Linked DNA regions of Homo sapiens: region 1 is linked to region 2. Evidence: fine-mapped expression QTL. Tissue or cell type: lung. Region 2 holds a variant in brackets; the other region holds the start of a gene. All regions are shown on one strand. Distances are from middle to middle.

Evidence for each region. PIP is the estimated chance that this variant, and not a neighbour inherited with it, causes the effect.
Region 1: it holds the start of DENND4C, and the variant in region 2 is fine-mapped to the expression of DENND4C in lung (TOPMed, PIP above 0.99). The same link has a PIP of 0.9 or more in aorta, breast, esophagus muscle, fibroblasts, subcutaneous fat and sun-exposed skin.

What each region holds. Positions count from the first base shown.
Region 1 is chr9:19,229,120-19,233,134 of GRCh38, forward strand. DENND4C (DENN domain containing 4C) reads left to right here and starts at 1,574. Exons shown (of 33, transcript NM_001330640.2): 1 at 1,574-1,714. RefSeq lists enhancers at 732-981, 1,366-1,872, 1,873-2,378 and silencers at 1,012-1,311, 1,392-1,761, 1,982-2,121.
Region 2 is chr9:19,182,542-19,186,887 of GRCh38, forward strand. No RefSeq gene overlaps it. Among named protein-coding and RNA genes, the nearest start is that of DENND4C, 46 kb to the right of the region's middle. RefSeq lists enhancers at 1,935-1,984, 3,963-4,346. The variant A/C (reference allele first, on the strand shown) is at 1,945.

The DNA.
Region 1 (4,015 bases), 46 kb after region 2:
CTGGAACTCTCGACCTCAGGTGATCCGCCCGCCTCAGCCTCCCAAAGTGCTGGGATTACAGACGTGAACCACCGCGTCCGGCCCACAAGCTAAATTTTGAAGTATTAGATCCTTTCTTAAACTTTTGCTCTTCGGATTGTCAATGTCAAAGATAGTTTCCAGGGGGACCAAATTGGCCCCAAACTGTTATTAAATAAGCCTTAACTTTTATTGCTGCGCATTTCTTCTGAAATCAATTCTGACTGCTTACGTGGTTAGAAAAATAGTTTCTGCTATTGAATATAAAACTCAAATTATCCATGGCTATGCAATAAACTTCAGAAATAAATGGACAGCAGTGCATTTATGACCCAGGTATAATCTCACATTTTTATGCAAAAATACAGATTAAATAAGGAGAGTGTAATTTTCAGGAAAATGATTATTTATGTGGATACTCACCAGATATGCAGAAATCTTACCAGTTCTGATTTTGACCTGCCATGGAATCTGAAGTCATTCGCCTTTTTTTCCCCCCAGAGGTAAAAAAGTTATCTCTACTTCAAACCATTTCCTTCTTCCTAAATAACTAGTAATTGCTTTTTCATTTACTATGATAACTCAAAAACGTTGTTCAAAAATATCCTGCAAAATTTGCATTATAGAGAAACGACTCTGCAGGCGTCTGTGTCGATAATGAGGCTACACTTAGGAGGCGTGAGGGTACTGACTATGCAAATGAGCGATTTCTCCATTAGGAATTCCCATCCCCAAATCTGGGCCGAAGGAGAGACACCGAGCGCGGCCAGGGACTCACATGGTGCACTGGAGCCAAGGGGTTTCGGGAAGGGCCAGCGCGCGGGTCTCTCTAGAGCCCTCTACTCATGCGTGGGAATTCCAGATTCCTTCCCTGGGAAGGAATCTTCACGTATCTCCCGGCACTGTCCTCAGTGACCTTCAGCCACTCGGCATCACTTTCCCTGTCTTTGAAAACTCCGAGAGAAGCAGCCGCCACCTGCCTCAGGCCAAGGCAATAAACCCACATCACACCGCCAGTCTGAGCCCTGCAGGAAGGGGTGCACAGCGGCCTCCAGAGCGCTTTCTCCCCAGCTCTGTTTCTGCAGGCTCGGCCGCGCGAACGCTGAGGAGGGGATCGGAGGCCCGCAAGGCTCAGACCCCGCGCCCCGCGGGGGTCGCACAGGGGTCGGGCGGGGGAGGGGAGCGGTGGCTGCAGGGCCTCGGCCCTCCCCGGGGGAGGGGCCTGAGCACCGCACCGCCCCCCTCCTCCCTGCGTCTTCTCCCTCCCACCCCCCGCCCTTTTCCACCCGCCCCCGCAGGAGGAAAGGGAGAGGGAGGGGGAAAAGAAAGTGCTGTTTTGTGGAAAGGGGCGGAAGGCGGGGGAGAAAAAGGGAACAGAAACATGGCGGTCAGGTCTTGGGACGGCTGCGCCGCGGGCAGCTCCTAGGCGACGCGCCGCCCGCACTGTCCGACGGCTCACAGCGCGGAGGCACCCGCGCGGGCCAGCGCTCCGGCCATCGCCCCTGGCTGTAGGCGGCGCCCCTCGGAGACCCTGCCCGCGAGGCGGCGCAGGCGCAGACCGGACTGAGGCGGCGGCGGCCGCTGGAGCTAGTCCCCCGCCCTGCCCTGCCGAGCGCGCCCAGTCCGCGAATCCGGTGCTTTCTTGCCCCAGGAAGAAGCCGTGTCGGGGCTGCGCTGACAGAGGAGCAGGCAGCAGGTGAGGCTGCGGCGCGGGGCCTTTGGCGGAGGAAGCCTGCGCCGTGCCCTCGCGGGGCCTGCGCTGCAAGGCTGGGAGGGCGCGGGACAGGTAGAGCCCGGAGGGCTGAGTTCCGAGTGGCTGGCCCGCGGGGGGTCGCCGAGGAGGCGGAGAGTGGCCGCGGCTGGCGTTCGTGGCCTAGTTTCTCCGCGGTTTCCGGGGGCGGGGAGTCCCCGGATCCTGCGGGATGCAGTCGGGGAAAGGCTGCCCCTGAAGAGCCTCCCCGCGTCGCCCGCCGGGCCCATGAGAATCGTTTGCGTACAAGCGCGAGGGGTCTGGGCCCGGGGGACCGCCGGGGCGACGGCCGCTTTGGTGGGGGCCGGGGTGCGGAGGGAGCAGGATCGGGGCTTCCCAGAGGGGGTCGAGGCTGAGAGAGCGGAGAGCTAGAGCCAGGGGTGGCGGGCAGTCTCGAGAGGAGTCGGGGGACTGAGAAGTGTCGGGGACAACGGGGAGGAGGGGGACCTGGGCAGGTGTCTCTGGTGAATTGAAGACATTTCCTTCTCTGTCTTACGGTGGCCGATCCTCAGGGCTTCTTTGTCGGGGATGACTTTCTAGGAGGGCAGTATCCTTTTAACTCTGGAGTGACTAAACACAAAACCAAGGAATGAAGTCCTAAGGCTGACTCCTGTAAAGAGCTGTAACTTTTTCTGTTTTAAGAATGCTGTCACGTCTTTTTTTTTTTCCTCCCCTTTTCTGCTTGATAGACCTTTTCCCTCTCGAAGACCGTCTTTTATCTGCACTAATAAGGAATTACCCAGTTTTTAAATAGTACCGCCTCCTTCTCCCCTTATGTATGTTTGTCACACGGGAAAATTTAGGGTAGTTACCGCGGGTACTTGTGCAAATTTGAGGGAAAGTGTCATTTCCAGTAGTGAACCCTCAGCTGTCTCTTTGTGCCTCCGAGATACTGTCAAGCGTTGTAGCCTGAGAAATTGACCCACTGAGCCTGCTTAATTGTGTGCAAACCCGTGTTGAGGCGTTCTTCCTAGGCCCTAATTTACGTAGGAATAGGTTTTCCCTTCCGGTCTGTGTATAATGAGAGGGGAGAACGTTAGTGCTAAGGCGCTAAGTTCTGGATAAATACTTGATTTGATGTGATAGTGTGTATTACTCTATCAGAAATGCAGAGCGTTGTATGATTTTTCTGTGTACACGCGATAAGAGCAATATTAGTTGCAAAAGGAAGTTTTCATCTTTGAACATTAAAGGTATCCTTTATTCTTGATCACTATAGCATGCAAAAAAGAAACTATATTTTCTGTCCTGTTCTTTGTATTACTGTTAAAGAGTTGGTAAACTGCCGTCTTGCTGTGAGACTGGGAAGTCGGCAATGAAGTTAGATTTGTATTCATGAACATGATCTGCCTGTCATATAGGCTTGCTTTGACTTGTTTTTTTTTTCAGTAGTGGCAAAGGGTTTTCTGCCACTCAATCCACACTTTCCTCCGCATTGGTATCTCCGTTGACCATTTTGCAAAATAGTTTATTGAGATTAGGGGTCTGATCTTTTGTATAACCTGTTGTAGTGAACTGATCATATGCGACTTGACTTTGGCCAATAGTACCTCGTGCAGTGTACAGTACTACTATTTAGACTTACTGATTTGGGTAATAGAAAAGCTATGATGTTAGAAATGTTGTCGTTGTATATTGGAGAAATTTTGAAGTTGCATATTGGAGTAATTTAGTCCTGTATGCTTTGTAAATGAGTGCATTCTATTGTCGAGAGTAAATACAGTATTTTGTAGTATAAACTTAAGCTTTTAGCTGAAGAAATTGGCAGCATAGTTGGAGTGTGGAGACTATTCTTAAAACGCAAATGTTTTAAATTACAAGGAACTGTAGTGGTGTGTAGGCTGTAACAATTCCTGGTGCCAAATTTGGGAGATTATTTGGTTGAGCTACTTTCTATAAAGAAACATATTAAGTATCTGCAATAAAAGTGGATTTGTAGCTATACACAAGGGATTTTACATTATAAATAATAACTCAATAAGGCACCTTTCTTTGCTCTTTGTGTATCTGCCAGTTAAGACCAAAACATCTCATATTTTCACTGGAGCTTCCTGCCAAAACAAATACTGGTTTTGCATTGGCTTTGCTGCTCAGTTTGAAAGCTAGGGGAATCTCTTAGAGCCTACTCTGGTTCTGGAGGCTGCCTGATTAAAAAAAAAAAAAAGAAAAATTGAAAGCTAGGTTTCAGTCATATGCTTGCACCTTAAGTACAGGTTGTAAAGTAAAAAAGAAAGTTGCTGAGTCAGT
Region 2 (4,346 bases):
AGAATCACTGTAGGTATTTTTACAAATATAGGTTCTGAGGCCCCACCGCATACCCACTTAATTAGAATGGGGAGAAGGGGAGTCTGTGGTTTTACCAAGCTTTGTGAATGATTTTTAAGCATTCTGCTGCATTGCTTTCTAAACCCAGGCCTGTTTCCCACACTACTGTAATCAAGAGGGAACACTGAAGTTTCCTCAGTTCCTTCCTGTTTTTTCCTGTTTCCTTCTGCAGTGACCAACACTATCAGAAATGGCATTTTGGCAGGGACAGGGAGTACAGGAATGGAAACAGGAAAGGCATAAACAAGACTCCTCCTCTGCCCCAGGACTCTCTCCTGTGGGTCACATTACCAGTGAAGGCTTGTGAACTCTGATTTAGCTAAGTTAATTTTGTGCAAAAAAATAAATTTTGGCCCGGTGCGGTGGCTCACACCTGTAATCCCAGCACTTTGGGAGGCCGAGGCAGGTGGATCATGAGGTTAGTTCAAGACCAGCCTGTCCAAGATGGTGAAACCCTGTCTCTACTAAAAATACACGCAAAAAATTAGCCAGCGTGGTGGTGGGCGCCTGTAACCCCAGCTACTCGGGAGGCTGAGGCAGGAAAATTGCTTGAACCCAGGAGCTGGAGGTTGCAGTAAGCCGAGATCACGCCACTGCACTCCAGCCTGGGCCACAGAGAGGGACTCCATCTCAAAAAAAAAAAAAAAAAAAGAATTCTGGGGAGTTGTAGTGCTTGTTAAAAACAGATTCCGGGCCGGGCGCAGTGGCTCACGCCTGTAATCCCACCACTTTGGGAGGCCGAGGTGGGTGGATCACAAGGTCAGGAGTTCAAGGCCAGCCTGACCAAGATGGTGAAACCCCATGTCTACTAAAAATACAAAAATTAGCTGGGTGTGGTGGCGGGTGCCAGTAATCCCAGCTATTCGGGAGGCTGAGGCAGATAATTGCTTGAACCCTGGAGGCGGAGGTTGCCAGTAAGCCAAGATTGCACCATTGCACTCCAGCCTGGGCAATAGAGGGAGACTTCATCTCAAAAAAAAAAAACACAGATTACAAGGTCCTTTAGTAGAGATGATGATACCTTAATCTAGATGATTCAAATGTAGGTAGCTCTCAGAACACACTTTGGAGAACAATGACTTAAATCCAGTGAAGAAAATCTCCAAGAAGCTGTGACAATATGTGGTCTCTTGAAATCTAGAGATTGGTGCTACATGTGATGGCTCACCCCTGTAATCCTAGCATTATGGGAGGCCAAGGCGGGTGGATCACTTGAGATCAGGAGTTGAGACCAGCCTGGCCAATATGGTGAAACCCCATCTCTACCAAAAATACAAAAATTAGCCAGGTGTGATGGCGCGTGCCTGTAATCCCAGCTACTTGGGAGGCTGAGGCAGGAGAATCGCTTGAACCCAGGAGTGGGAGGTTGCAGTGAGCTGAGATCGTGCCACTGCCCCTCAGCCTGCACTGAGCTAGACTCCATCACAGAAAGAAATCTAGAGATTAGCTACTGAATATTGACAGCTTTATCTTCCCAACTAGCAAAACGATCCCTGCTAGAAGGAACAGATTCATTTTGGAAAAAGTATTCAGTAATCTCTGAAGCACAGAAACATTTTTTTCATTCTTGCTATGCAAACAGATTGTTGGCCTTCTTCAGTGAGGCAGGCCAGGACAAAATCTCAGCAGGCCCTTTCGACAGCATTTCTCCACAAATCAAATTAGGTCAAAGAGAAAATTCAGAGCAGTCTGAGGAAGGGAAAAAAAAAGCCCTGAAATGTGTTATAAAACTGGTGGGCAGGGGACAGGGGAACATCCCACCTACTTTGTTTGCTCTGGTAAAGGCTGGTGGCTTGTCACATGAACCCCAGGCCTTCCTGTTCTCGGCAGCTGCCTTCTGAGTCACTGTGGGCTGCAGGGGAGGGCCCCCTAACATCAGGGAAC[A/C]TAACAACCATATGACTCTTAGGTGAGGCCACTGCGCCAGGCCAATTCAAAAATTAAAGAGCGACTACATTGCCGATTTTCATTTATTTTAAGAACTTCTTTACTCCGTTTTTGTCTACAACTGCAAATTAGCAGAAGACAAAAAACAAACTAGTAAGTGGAATTCACATCTGGTAAGTGAGAACTGGTGCCAGTCCTATTAGTCACCAAGATCACTTAAGGGTGGAGTGCACTAGCAGGATAAAACATTAAACCAAAAGCAATACTTCCTTGTAACAGCTGGAGTTTCCTAAGAAATTTTTAAAATAAAAACCTAGAATGCCTAGCAGGCAAAATACCATAGTTAGAAAAGTCAACCTTTACTTTTCTCTTTTGATTGTAGTCAACTGTTGCATAATTTTTTTTTTTTTAGGCAGAGTCTTGTTCTGTCGTCCCAGCTGGAGTGCAGTTCACTGCAACCTTCGCCTCCTGGGTTCAAGTGATTCTCCTGCCTCAGCCTCCCCAGTAGCTGGGACTACAGGAGTATGCCACCAGGCCCAGCTAATTTTTTTTTTTTTTGTATTTTTAGTAGAGACAGGGTTTCTCCATGTTGGCTAGGCTGGTCTCGAACTCATGAACTTGGATCATCCACCTGCCTTGGCCTCCCAAAGTGCTGTGATTACAGGCGTGAGCCACCGCGCCTGGCCTGTTGCAGAATGTTGCTGGGTATATTATATTATACTATGTGAATTAAGAATTCTCTATTAAACAGTTTTAAGTTGTAAGAAAGCCACCCTAAGTTTAAAACTTTCAGTCTTTTAAAACTGATGCATTAAAGAACTACTCCAAATAAGAGAAACAACACTGAGGTGTGATTCATTTGAACTTGAGTCCCGGTTCCTTAACCCAATGCCTGGATGCTAGAGATGTTCAATAAAGACTTAATGACTGCATAACCAACTTATTAGCTGTAGAATAGTTATAATAATTAACTTCCTTGAGCCTTTGTTTTCTCTTCTGTGATCAGGGAAGAAACCTCTTCTGTCTACCTCAGAGAATTTTTGTAAGGATCAAATAAAATAATGTGTGTTTAAGTTTTGATTTCTTTCTTTTTTCTTTTTTTTTGAGATGGAGTTTTGCTCTTGTAATCCAGGCTGGAGTGCAGTGTGGTATGATCTCTGCTCACTGCAACCTCTGCCTCTGGGGTTCAAGCGATTCTCCTGCCTCAGTCTCCCGAGTAGCTGGGGTTACAAGTGTCCACTAACACGCCCGGCTAATTTTTGTATTTTTAGTAGAGATAGGGTTTCACCATATTGGCCATGCTGGTCTTGAACTCCTGACCTCAGGTGATACGCCTGCCTCGGCCTCCCAAAGTGCTGGGATTACATATACAACCTTTTTTTAAAAAAAAATTATTTTTATTTTTATTTTTATTTTTTGAGACAGAGTCTCGCTATGTCACCCAGGCTGGAGTACAGTGGGGCAGTCTTGGCTCACTGCAACCTCCGCCTCCCTGGTTCAAGCGATTCTTGTGCCTCAGCCTCCCAAGTAGCTGGGATTACAGATGTGAACCACCACACCAACTAATTTTTGTCTTTTTAGTAGAGACGGGGTTTTGCTATGTTGGCCAGGCTGGTCTTGAACTCCTGGCCTCATGTGATCCACCCGCCTCAGCCTCCCAAAGTGCTGGGATTACAGGTGTGAGCCACTGCATCTGGCCAATACAACCTCTTTTTTGATTAGAGCTTTGAAATTGGGGTAGGTTTACTGAAAATAGAACTGTACCAGAGAATTGCATCTGAAATATGCAAAGCTCACCTGGATATCTCAATAGCATGGCAATAACCACCCTATAACCTTTTTAAAAATAAATCTCAGTGGAAGTGATGCTGAAATCTCTCCTTAAGGTCCTCTTTCTCAATCAACTATAATTCAGCAAACATTAAACTTCAGTTACCCGGAAAAAGATTAGGTAATAAATGTGTTAATCATAGACTGGATCATAATCAGCACCGTCACCTAAAGAATACTCACCCCTTAAGTAATCCAAAAGAAAACTAAGAAGCAAAAATCCAGGGTTTGTTTCTCTATAACCAAAATAGAAGAATGTCCATAGTCATTACTGAGCATTAACCATTTGAAGATCTCCTTCCTTTTAACCTCAAGACATTATAATATCTCTTCCTTACTGTCAGGAGACCTAGAGTCCTGTCCTGGCTCTGTGCCTATAGTCATAAGTTGATCTTATCCTTAAAAACGTAAAAATCTTTGTCTTTATTTTGGCCGAGCATGGTGATATATGACTGTAATCCCAGCACTTTGGGAGACTAAGGCAGGTGGATCATTTGAGGCCAGGAGTTGAGGACAGATCGCTTGAGACCAACCTGGCCAATGTGGTGAAACCCTGTATCTACTAAAAATAT